Regions from separate parts of the Homo sapiens genome. Here regions 2, 3 and 4 are each linked to region 1. The links come from fine-mapping of genetic effects on gene expression. A gene starts in region 1. Each other region holds a variant in brackets. All regions are shown on one strand. Distances are from middle to middle.

Region 1 (2,682 bases):
CTCCAGAGTGCTCTCTCCCCACTGTGGCCCTGAGCTTTGCCTCACGGTAACACTGTGCTGCATGACACTCCAGCATGATCTGCATGTTTCTCACCTCCGGACCTTCCCCACACAACTTTCTTGCTGCTTGGACCACCCTTCCCACCTATTTTCAACTGTTTCTCTCCAGCGCATCTTTCATGATAAGGCTTGAGTGGAAGCTGTATCCGAGGCTGAAGGTTATCCATGCAGCTTTGAAACCATCTGTTTATGCTTCTGTTTACCCCCCAAATACTGTTTACCCCAATACTCAAAGTCAAGGTTGGTGACTCAACAATTTTCAGAACTTCTAGCTTATCAGTATAGCTTTATTGTACTGAACTGAGTTTTTCACCATGCTGTTACTGTCTTTGAGGTTAAAAAGCCCCCAACATTCACTCCTATTTGAATCATCTGTGCAAGACTCAAGCAGCTATGAATTCAACCACAGTGTAAAGTTCTTCCCTACAATGCTTTATTGTTATTCTAGCTCCCAAGAGAGTACCATCTTTCAGCCCAAGACCCTTGACAGAACCCCTTCAACTCTGTCGCCTTTTTTCATCTCTGGAATTCTGACACCACCCATGACCCCTCTTCTTGTTCATTTACTAGGTTTTGTTCCTTTTTTTCCTTTTGTTTCAATATCCTATTGTATCTGTTCCTTTTGGGCTTCACATCCTTTTTGGAAAGAGAGGCACAGGTAATATAATGAATGAGGATGCTCCTCCTCCCTGGTTCCCTCTAAGTCAAGTTTCTCCAACGCGCTGGTCTGCTTGGCTTTGAATGCGGCTCAACACAAATTCATAAACTTTCTTACAACATTTTGAGATTTTTTGGTGATTTTTATTTTTATTATTTATTTATTTATTAACTTATCAGCTATCCTTAGTGTTAGTGTATTTTATGTGTGGCCCAAAACAATTCTTCCAACGTGGCCCAGGGAAACCAAAAGATTGGACACCCCGCTCTAAGTGTTCCCCAAGTTTCCACTGTTTTCAGAGCACATGTCCCAGGTAATAACACACAGCCCATCATTTAGTGACTGCTCAGGGTGCAAGCTGTGGAGAAGAGAGTCCGACTACGAGCTGGTGCTCTAAGCCTCCAGCACGCTAGGACTGACGACGGGGATCCGGAAACAACAAGCTCCACTCCCGCAACACACACACACACACACACACACACACACACACACACACACACACGCACACGCACACGCGCACGCGCGCACACACGCGCACACACGCGCGCACGCGCGCGCGCGCCGCCCAAGGGTAGCCGTCTGCAGGGCCCCAGCTAAGCAGCCCGCGGAGAGCGAGCGGCGCGTGCGCCCCCGCTGATTGGCTGGCACAACCGGCACCGGAGCCAATGGGAGCACGCCTTGTTGTCAGGCGCGCAGCCGGACGGCGCGGTGGTCGGGACAGACTGGCCGTTGCTGTGGAGACGCCTGGTGAGTTCCTGGAAGGCTGGTTTGAAGGCGGTGCCGGGGTGGGGGTGAGGCTCAGCAGAGCCCGGGGCACAGGCCGGAGGGGCTGCAGGCGCGAGGCTGGGTTACGTGAGGAAGCTGGGGGTTTCGCGGGCAGCTTTAGAGCCCCAGTCAGGGAAACCGAGGCCGGGCTTCCTGGCTGCCTCGCGAGCCTCTTCATGGCTCTCGCCGCCGCCCTGAGGTGCCTAGAATGGGTTCCGGCCTCCGGGGAGGTTCCCAGTAACCGCAGGAGCCACCATTGATTTGGCGTCTGCTGGGTGCAAAGCCCAGCGCGCTAACCCTTTACTCGCGACCTTTCGCTTCACCTTCACAGCAGCCCTGCGAGGTGAGTGTTGTTATTGGTGCCATTTACAGGGGTGGAAACTGAGGCCGCGGGTAGGTGAAATGATTTGCTCCAAGTCACCCAGTGGGTGAGCGCGACTCCAGACTGAAAATTTTGACCGTTCTGCTTCACTGCCTCCCCGCAAGAGGCGGGCCCTGGCCAGATGGAACTCACCTGGCATTCCCAAGGTATCTGCACAAGTGGCTTTGGGAGTCACTTAACTCTTCAGGACCTGGGTTATTACAGGTTATAAGTGTGGGACCGTCGGATTCCATGTGGCTAAGATTCTTTCTATGTGATTATTGTGGTTAGAAATAGAATATGCTTAGAACAGTCTCGTTCAGCGGTCGGCAAACTTTTGTTGTAAATATATCAGTGTTTACATTGTTATATTGTAAGTATAATGAGTATAATAGTATTCATAATAGTAGTTTAGGCTTGGGGGGTCCATACTCTGTCTACTTAACTGTAGCGATGTAGTGTGGATACAGCCAAAGACAATACATAACAGACTAGCTGCGTCGCAATAAAATTTTAATTATAGGGACCGAAGTTTTAATTTTATATATTGTTAATATAATTTTCACGTGTCATGATTTTTTTTCCCAAATATGAAAAAATGTAAAAACCATTCTTTGCTCGTGGGCTGTACAAAAAGGGTGGGCTGGTTAGCTTGCAGAACCCTCATCTAGTACAAAGCCTCATACATGAGGGGAAACAGACTGAGAGACTGACATCTATGTCAAGTCAGTCACACAGCCAGGGCACTGCCACCACTGAGCTTAAGACATAGGCTTCCCACCTTCCAGGCCAGGAAACATCCCCAGTTATCACTCTGGATCAGGGTGCTGAGGTCTGA
Region 2 (2,682 bases), 200 kb after region 1:
TGCCTGGTAATTTTTTTTTTTTAGTAGAGATGGGGTTTCACCATGCTGGCCAGGCTGGTCTTGAACTCCTGACCTCGTGATCCGCCTGCCTTGGCCTCCCAAAGTGCTGGGGTTACAGGCATGAGCCACAGCGCCTGGCCTGTTTGTTTTTGAGACAGAGTCTCGCTCTGTCACCCAGGCTGCAGTGCAGTGGCACGATCTCAGCTCACTGCAACCTCTGCCTCCCAGGTTCAAGCAATTATCCTCCCTCAGCCTCCCAATCAGCTGCGATCACAGGTGCCCGCCACCACACCTGGCTAATTTTTTTGTATTTTTAGTAGAGACGGGGTTTCACCATGTTAGCCAGGCTGGTCTTGAACTTCTGACCTCAAGTAATCCACCTGCCTTGGCCTCCCAAAGTGCTGGGATTGCAGGCATGAGCCACCGCACCTGGCCTATTTATTTTGATTCTTATTTTTTATGTAATATTTAAGCAAATGAATTTTCCTCCGAGCCCTGCATTAGCTGTATCCTGAAGGGTCAGATCTGTATTGATTACAGTGTTAGTTGAAGATGTCGCCCTTTTGGTATTGATTTCCTCTGTGTAACAAGATGTTTCAAAAGCCAGCTGTAAGAGTCTCTGGCTGGGCTGGGAATGCACACTGGCTGGCACTGCTGGTGGTGCAGAATGGATGTAGGGGCAGGGCCTGGGCAAGTCTCCCAGGGTGGGATGAGCAGGGAGGGAGAGGAATGGGCTTCCTCCAGGGCCTCAGGAACCAAGGAAGTCTCTGCACTACCTCCAGGCAGGGTCAGATGTGCATTTTCCAAAGCTTATTGCATTAGGAGTGGGGAGTAGACTGTGGTGGTGCCAGCAGCAAAAAGATGGAAAAGAGAGAAGGAGGTGGAGTCAGGGCTGAACCACACAGCTGGAGGGAAGAGGGGGGTTCTACGAGTAGCGCAGGAGGGAGGCGAGGCAGGCACCGCAGAGCTTCCAGCTGCCTCAGGGCCGACTTCCATTTGGCACTTTGAGTCCAAGGTGCCTGTGCACCTTGTCCAGATGCTCTGGAGGTGGTTGCTCGGGTATGTGGGTCTGAGACTCCAAACAGCTCGGCCAAAGCCGACATGGAGATCCATCAGTTCACAAGTAGTGAATGAGCCTTCTCAGGTGGGTGGCAGTCCCAGG[G/A]TGGCCAAGGGTCCAGGGAGTGCACCCTCACTCTGCAGGTGAGTCAGAATCAGGCACCACAGAGCCAGGGTTGCACCCCTGCTGGGGGGAACAGGAGCCCCTTTTCCTCTCCCCGACACACAGGGACAAAGTTATCATGCTCTTTGGGTGCCACTGGGAGGCACTGATGGGAGAGACTGGCCAGGCCTTCCCAAGCAAGCTCCAGGCAGCCTCCCAGCACCCCGGCCCAGGCGCAGGTGTGGTCTGGGAGCACAGAGCCAGGTTCCCACCGTGGGGCACCTGAGGTTTGTGCCTAGCAGCCTTCTCCTCCTTTGGTTCCCTTTTCCTTTTTGGTCCACAGGGTTTGGGACAGGTGGCTGCTACCAACAGCTCTCAAGGTGGCCCCACAGACCTGAGCCAACCACTTCTCCTCAGCCCTCCCCTGCCCATGAAGACTGCTCAGAGGGGCCCCATTGAGAGCTGGATCTGGGACTTTGTTTAAACTGCAAGGAGAGAAGCTCTGTCACCCTGCAGGGCGTGAAGTTCAGCTGAAGCCATTGAGATCATGGCCTGGGAGCCTATCTAGCAGGAGGCTACCACACGGAGGGCCCTGACGGTGTGAGTTCGGCCTCTGGATCCCACCACACTGAAGCACTCCAGAGACTCCCTTCTCTCTAAACCCACCAGTTCTGCTCCCTGGACCCCTGACCCAGCCGTGCTGCTTTCAAAGATCTGTCTTCCACTGCCTCCCAAAGCCAGATCGCAGGAGAAGCTGGTGGTCTCGCATCTGCCTGAATTCTGACAGCGGCCCACGAGAGTCGGTGATGATGGCAGGTCTGCCCAAGTGGTGGGCCGGCTTGGCCCCCTCATCTCAAAGTGAGCCATGTTTTGCTCCCAGACCTTCCTCCTAGTCTGCCAGACCACCTCTTCTAGCCATGCAGTCAAGCCCAGATTAGGAATTAGCCCCATCCAGCCCCTCTCCCACATACAACCTCCAAATATATCCACATCCCAATCCCTAGAACCCAAGATTAGACCTTATATGGCAAAAGTGACTTTGAAGATGTGATTCAATTTTTTGAGATGGGGAGATTATCCTGGACCATCCAGGTGGACCCACTATGCCCCCAAAATTCACGTGTTGAAAGCTAATCACCAATGTGATAGCGTTAGCAGGTGGGGCCTTTGGGATGTGGTTAGGTCATGAGGGTAGAGCCCTCATGAATGGGATTAGTGCCCTATAAAAGAGACCCCAGAAGCCAGGCATAGTGGGCTGCACCTACAGTCCCAGCTACTGAGGAGGCTGAGGCAGGAAGATCTCTTGGGTACAGGAGTGAGCTATGATCACGCCATTGTACTCCAGCCTTGGTGACAGAGTGAGACCCTGTCTCTAAAGTAATTAAATAAAAGAGACCCCAGAGAGCTAGCTAGCTTCTTCCACTATGTCAGTTAGAAGGTGCCATGTATGAGGACATGGGCCCTCACAGGACATCAAATCTGCCAGTACCTTGATCTTGGACTTCCCAGCCTCCAGAGCTGTG
Region 3 (2,682 bases), 130 kb after region 1:
CTGTAGTCCCAGCTAGTCAGGAGGCTGAGGCAGAAGAATCCCTTCAACTCAGGAGGCGGAGGTTGTAGTGAGCTGAGATTGCACCACTGCGCTCCAGCCTGGGCGACAGAGCAAGACTCCGTGTCAAAAAAAAAAAAAAAGTGTGCGTGTGTGCTTTTTAGCGACTTTGCTTTTTCCATGACACCAAGTCTTGGAGAAGTTTCCATGTGAGAAGGTCAGGTCATTTTGCTCTCTGCAGCTGCTGCCCAGTCTCCTTGGGTGGACACATGTATGGGCCCAGTGTCTGCTCTCACAGTCTCCTGGTTTGTGCGTCTTTGTGCTGTTGCTGTGTTCCTAAGTCCCCTGGCCTGGCCCAGAGGAGATGCCCACATGAATATTTGTGGATTAATTTCATTCATCCCTTTCCCCTCAGCAGTTGGTCTCCAAGCTCATTCTCCTGGATCAGCCAGTGCTGGATGTTGTAGGAGTCAGGCAAAGCCTTGGCCCTGGCCACAGGATGCTCAAGGCTGACAGTAGAGCACTGCCTGCATGTCTCCATGCGGGGCCTTCATAACGTGCTACAGGGCATGTAGGAGGGACAGGGAGCTGGGCTCTCCCATGCAGGGTGGGGTGCTGCTCAGCCAGAAAGGGGGCAGGAGAGGAAGGCTAGGATTAGAGGCACCCTCGGGGGAACTCCTTAGGCTGGGCTGCTGACAGAACCTTCCTGGGGAGTTTAAGGGACCAGAGAATGGGATGGGTGCTAAGGATCGAGTGAGTGGGACCTTGGGTTCCTATGTCAGCTTTGCTGACAGGAACTCCTTGCAAATGGGAACTGCCCCATGACTGGCTGGCCCCCACAGCAGCACAGATGGACGTGTAGCAGGGCTCAGCACTGTGGTTGAACATGAGGAGGAGTGAAGATGGCATGTCTTGGGTCCCACTGTTCCACACACCGTCCTCCCTGAGCAGAGGGGACCAGGAAAGCAGGCACCAAGCTAGGTGGTAGGTGCTGCTGGGGTGGCTACCCACACCATGGAGGCTGAGGGTTTGTGTCTGGGTGCCCAGAAGCTTCTGGGGCTCCCCCCGCAGGCATACACACCTCTGGCAGGCAAGCCTGCATGGGCCAGAGCCAGGCTGCTTTGTCCAGGGTGAACTTCTCTCCCTGTCTTGTAGTTGATTCAGAAACGTTCCCATAGTAACCAAACCAGACAGAGATGGTTCTCCTTCCTTCCCCAAAATGTTTGCTTATTTTAGCAGGCAGGGTTTTTTCTTGTTTCAACCCAGTTTCCAGCCTCTGAAAGAAGCAAAGGGAGCTCAGGGCCAGGCTGGTACTGCCTCCTGCTTCTGAGGCCGTGTGGGGCAGGCAGCAATGGTGGCCTGAGT[G/A]TGAGTGGAAGGGAGGTGCCGGCCTACTGTGGCCTCCCTGAGTGTGGTGTCTCCCCTAAAGCTGCTCCTGCCGCTGCTCAGGTGGGCAGCCCCCAGGTCCCAAGATCACTGAGAAGAGCACAGATTTTGGGCACAGGCAGGCACAGCTCCCAGCCACTCTACCCCTTACTCAGCTTGGGCTACCCGTAAGCAGAGTGGTCCCGACAGGTGGATGAAAGCTATCATCACACACTTGGCATGCCACACAAATCACCCTTAGGTCTGGAGATGGGCCTGCATGGAGGCCTTGGGGCTTATCTGTGGATCCTAGAGGCCAGTGCTAGGATGTGACTGAAGCACGGAGCAGGAGGAGCTCCAACTCACACCTGGCTGGGGCCTCCATAAGCTCAAGGCCCTGCCCTGGCTTGAATGGAGCAGCCTGAGATGTGGATGGTGGCCTTAGCCGTCACACCCACCACACAGGTCTCTTTCTGTGAGGCCTGGCCCAGTCTTTGGTGCCTGTGGATGGTGGTCAAACTTCCTGTTCTTGGTCACTGCTGCATAGCACTCCACTGTCTGGTTGTCCTGGTGGTCTACCTCCCCTCTTCCTAGCGGATAGGTGGCTTTTGGTTTTCCACTATTAGAAAAAGAATGCTGCTATCTCTGATCTCCTTTCTCACCTGTGCCGGGGTCTCCAGGACAAATGCCTGGAAGTTGGAGGCCAGGACACAGGTCCCCACAGCCAAGCGCTTCCACACCTTGCCAGGTGTTTTGGCAGAGCCAGGCCAGATGCCCTCCCACCAGCCCTTGCCCCACCCCCTCCCAGGACTCAGAACCACAGATGACTTTCATTTTGGCCTATCTGTGGAGTGTGCCAAAAAACCCCAGGTGGTTTCAGTGTGTGTCTCCCATGTGAGTGGGGAGGCTGAGCCTCTTCCCACACCGGTAGCCAGTCCCCTTTGTCTACCCAGGGTCTGCCATGTTCTCTCCTACTTGGCGGCTGCCACAGGTGGTTCTGTTTGTCCTGACTGTGTTGCTTAAACTGATGGGAGGTACAGTCATCATGAGCTGTCTTTGTTTCTTGAAAACATTTATGCCCTGTGCTGTCCCAGCCCTGGAGCCTGAGTGCTCACTGAAGGCCTTGATGTGGTCTGGTAGGGAGGAAGGGCCTCCCCACCCAATTTCTGGTACCCCATACCTGCCAGAGTTGGGGGGAAGGAGAGAAAGTCTCCAAAGCCCAGGGTACTGTCCTTCTCAGCAAGAATCAGTCATGCCCATTGTACTTTAATTCGCCACCAGTTGGTTGTGTAACCTTGGAGGAACCCCCTCCCTGCACCCAGT
Region 4 (2,682 bases), 60 kb before region 1:
CTTCGCACAGTGGAGCTGACCAAAGCTGGGCTGGGCAGGCAGGCCCAGGGGATATTGGCCGCGGATCCCTGCCTGTCCCCGCTGCTTTGCAGTTGGGCCAAGAATGCAGACTAACACGAAGAATCAGACTCTCCGGTGTGGAAACTATTACATAATTATCTATGTTATTATTTTTACTTTTTGGAGACAGCATCTAACTCTGTCACTCAGGCTGGAGTGCAGTGGCACAATCATGGCTCACTGCAGCCTCGACCTTCCAGGCTTAAGCGATCCTCCCGCCTCAGCCCCTCAAGTAGCTGGGACTACAGGTGCCCACCGACATGCCTGGCCAATTTATTATTATTATTATTATTGAGAGGAGGTCTTGCTGTGTTTCCGAGGCTGGCCTAGAACTCCTGGGCTCAAGTGATCCTCTTGCCTTGGCCTCCCAAAGTGTTGGGATTACAAGCATGAGCCGCCATGCCCCACTGGTTGTCTATTTTAATAGAGGCTTGATCTTTGCTTGTGAATACAAAACATTCTTCAAAATACAGGTTTAGAGAGGGCACAGCAGGCACAGAACGAGGGTAGGGAAATGGAGTGGGGCAAGAATATCTTCACCCCATGTGCTTGGAAAAAACAATGAAACTGCCTCGTTGTTTCCTAAGTAAAATAGTCCCTGTCTACCCCTGCCTGTGTCTCTTCCACTTTTGTATTATTTGTTTGTTTATTTATTTATTTATTTATTTATTTATTTATTTATTTATTTATTACAGTGTCTCAATCTGCAGCCCAGGCTAGAGGGCAGTGGCATGATCCCGGCTCACTGCAGCCTTGACCTCTCAGGATCAAGTGATCCTCCCAACTTACTCCTCCTAAGTAGAATAGTTGGGACTACAGGCACGTCCCCGTGCCCAGCTACTTTTTTCTTTGGTGTGTGTAGACGCATGATTTTGCCATGTAGACCAGGCTGACCTTGAACTCCTGAGCTCAAGTGATCCTCCTGCCTCCTCCTTCTAAAGTGTTGAGATCACAGACATGCACCACCATGTCTGGCCCTGGGTCTCTTCCACTTTTATGTATTTCTTGGCATTCTTCTGCCTTTTCCTTTTCCTGCATCTGACTTGCTCTATCCCATGGGGCTTCTCACCCAGCTGAAGGGGCTACTCCTAGAGGCTAGAGGCTGGAGGGCCCTGTGGCAGGGCAGTGGGGGAGGCCAGCACCCTCACCCTGAGCTCCAGCGTTTGCTGGTCTGGCTGGCATACAGAGATGCAGCTGGAGCACAATTCAGTGGAGGAGGCAGGGCTATAACTAAGCAGTAGGGCAGAGAGCAGAGCCAGAGCCCCCTGGGCAGGCCAGAGGGAGGACCCTGCTCAGCTGACTCTTCCCAACTGCTGCCCTTGGTACAACCAGCTTGAGTCACCTGCTACAGAACAGGGGCTGGACACAGAAGCAGTCTGTGGAGGGAGAATGGGCAGGGGTGTGTATGTCCATTCAGTAGAAGGGCAAAGAGGCCCACATGTAGGCCTATGATCAGACTGGAGCCTGGCTTGACTGAGGTCCTCTGATCCAAACACCAGGCACCTAATGCGGCCTCTAGCACTGGCCTAGAGTGCTAAAGTGAGTCAGACCTGGGAACCCCCA[C/G]TGGGGAGGGAGCCTTGAGAGTTTGGCATAAGAAAGCAAGAAGAGCTGAGCCACCGGAGGCTAAGTAGCTGAATGGGGCAGGGATTCCCAGCAAGAATGAGGTTGGTCTGAGGGTTGGGAACATGTTTGGCTGGGACTCTGGGGTATTGACAGGTCACCCAGCCTGGCCAGTAGGGCCTAAGTCCCCAGCTGGGATAGGAAGCTGAATCAGAGGGGGCAAGCCTAGAGCCCAGGGAGGAGGCTGGAGGGGTCTGACCTATGGATGGAACTGGCTGGGGGTGGGGTGTGAATTACAGCTCCAGGGAATTGTCCTTGAGCCATGCTTCAAGGAGCTGGACACAGGAAAGATGGCCCTCTGATGGGGTCAAGGTCTGTGACCCAGTGACTAGCAGAGAGGCTTCCTCTTCCCTGATGCCTCCCAGATAGGGGCCTCAGAAAGCTGCTGCTGGGATTTTGGGGTGGGGGTGGGCAGAGACCTCAGAGAACTCTGGGTTATCCCCACTCACCTCTCTGATCTTTCCTGCAGGCCAGCAGCACAGCGATGCCTTTGCCCAGGTGAACCCCCTGAGGAAGGTGCCGGGCCTTGAAGGATGGGGACTTCACCTTGGCTGAGAGGTAACCGGTCCGTGGGCTGCTGCCGGGCCTTGTGGGGCCAGTCGGCTGTCTGTTCACTGTTGATGGCTTGGATCATGGACTGTGGGCCCTGCACCAGCCCCAGGGTGAAGAATGGGTGGAGGCAGGCAGAGGTGCCCAGTGTTGACAAGGGTTATAGAAGTCCCCTCCTGCATTGTACAAGTGAGGAAACTGAGGCTGGAGGAGGGGAGGGACTTGCACAAGGCCACAGGGCCCAGTCTGCTTCCGGGCCTCCTCACCGCCAGCCTTCCCCTCCGAAAAAAGGAGAGTGCTAAGTTTCGAGGAGCGGCTGTACCAGGCATCTTAGTGCTACCATTTTGCCCACAAATCCTGTGGGGCAAGTGCTGTTTCCCTGGAGAGTCGAGGGACCACTCAGCGAGCTTCAGTGGCTATTTGCTAAACATCCACCAGGGCCAGACCCCATTT

Evidence for each region.
Region 2: its variant is fine-mapped to the expression of CABIN1 in fibroblasts (GTEx, PIP above 0.99).
Region 3: its variant is fine-mapped to the expression of CABIN1 in whole blood (TOPMed, PIP above 0.99).
Region 4: its variant is fine-mapped to the expression of CABIN1 in thyroid (GTEx, PIP 0.97).

What each region holds. Positions count from the first base shown.
Region 1 is chr22:24,009,903-24,012,584 of GRCh38, forward strand. CABIN1 (calcineurin binding protein 1) reads left to right here and starts at 1,402. Exons shown (of 37, transcript NM_012295.4): 1 at 1,402-1,465.
Region 2 is chr22:24,213,724-24,216,405 of GRCh38, forward strand. It overlaps LOC124905090 (a long non-coding RNA gene), which reads left to right. Exons shown (of 2, transcript XR_007068023.1): 1 at 1-6; 2 at 1,503-2,682. Among named protein-coding and RNA genes, the nearest start is that of GGT5, 30 kb to the right of the region's middle. RefSeq lists an enhancer at 1-432. The variant G/A (reference allele first, on the strand shown) is at 1,163.
Region 3 is chr22:24,139,441-24,142,122 of GRCh38, forward strand. All of the region lies in intron 29 of CABIN1 (calcineurin binding protein 1), which reads left to right. Among named protein-coding and RNA genes, the nearest start is that of SUSD2, 41 kb to the right of the region's middle. The variant G/A (reference allele first, on the strand shown) is at 1,363.
Region 4 is chr22:23,949,984-23,952,665 of GRCh38, forward strand. No RefSeq gene overlaps it. Among named protein-coding and RNA genes, the nearest start is that of GSTT2B, 9.9 kb to the right of the region's middle. RefSeq lists enhancers at 1,675-2,366, 2,367-2,682. The variant C/G (reference allele first, on the strand shown) is at 1,624.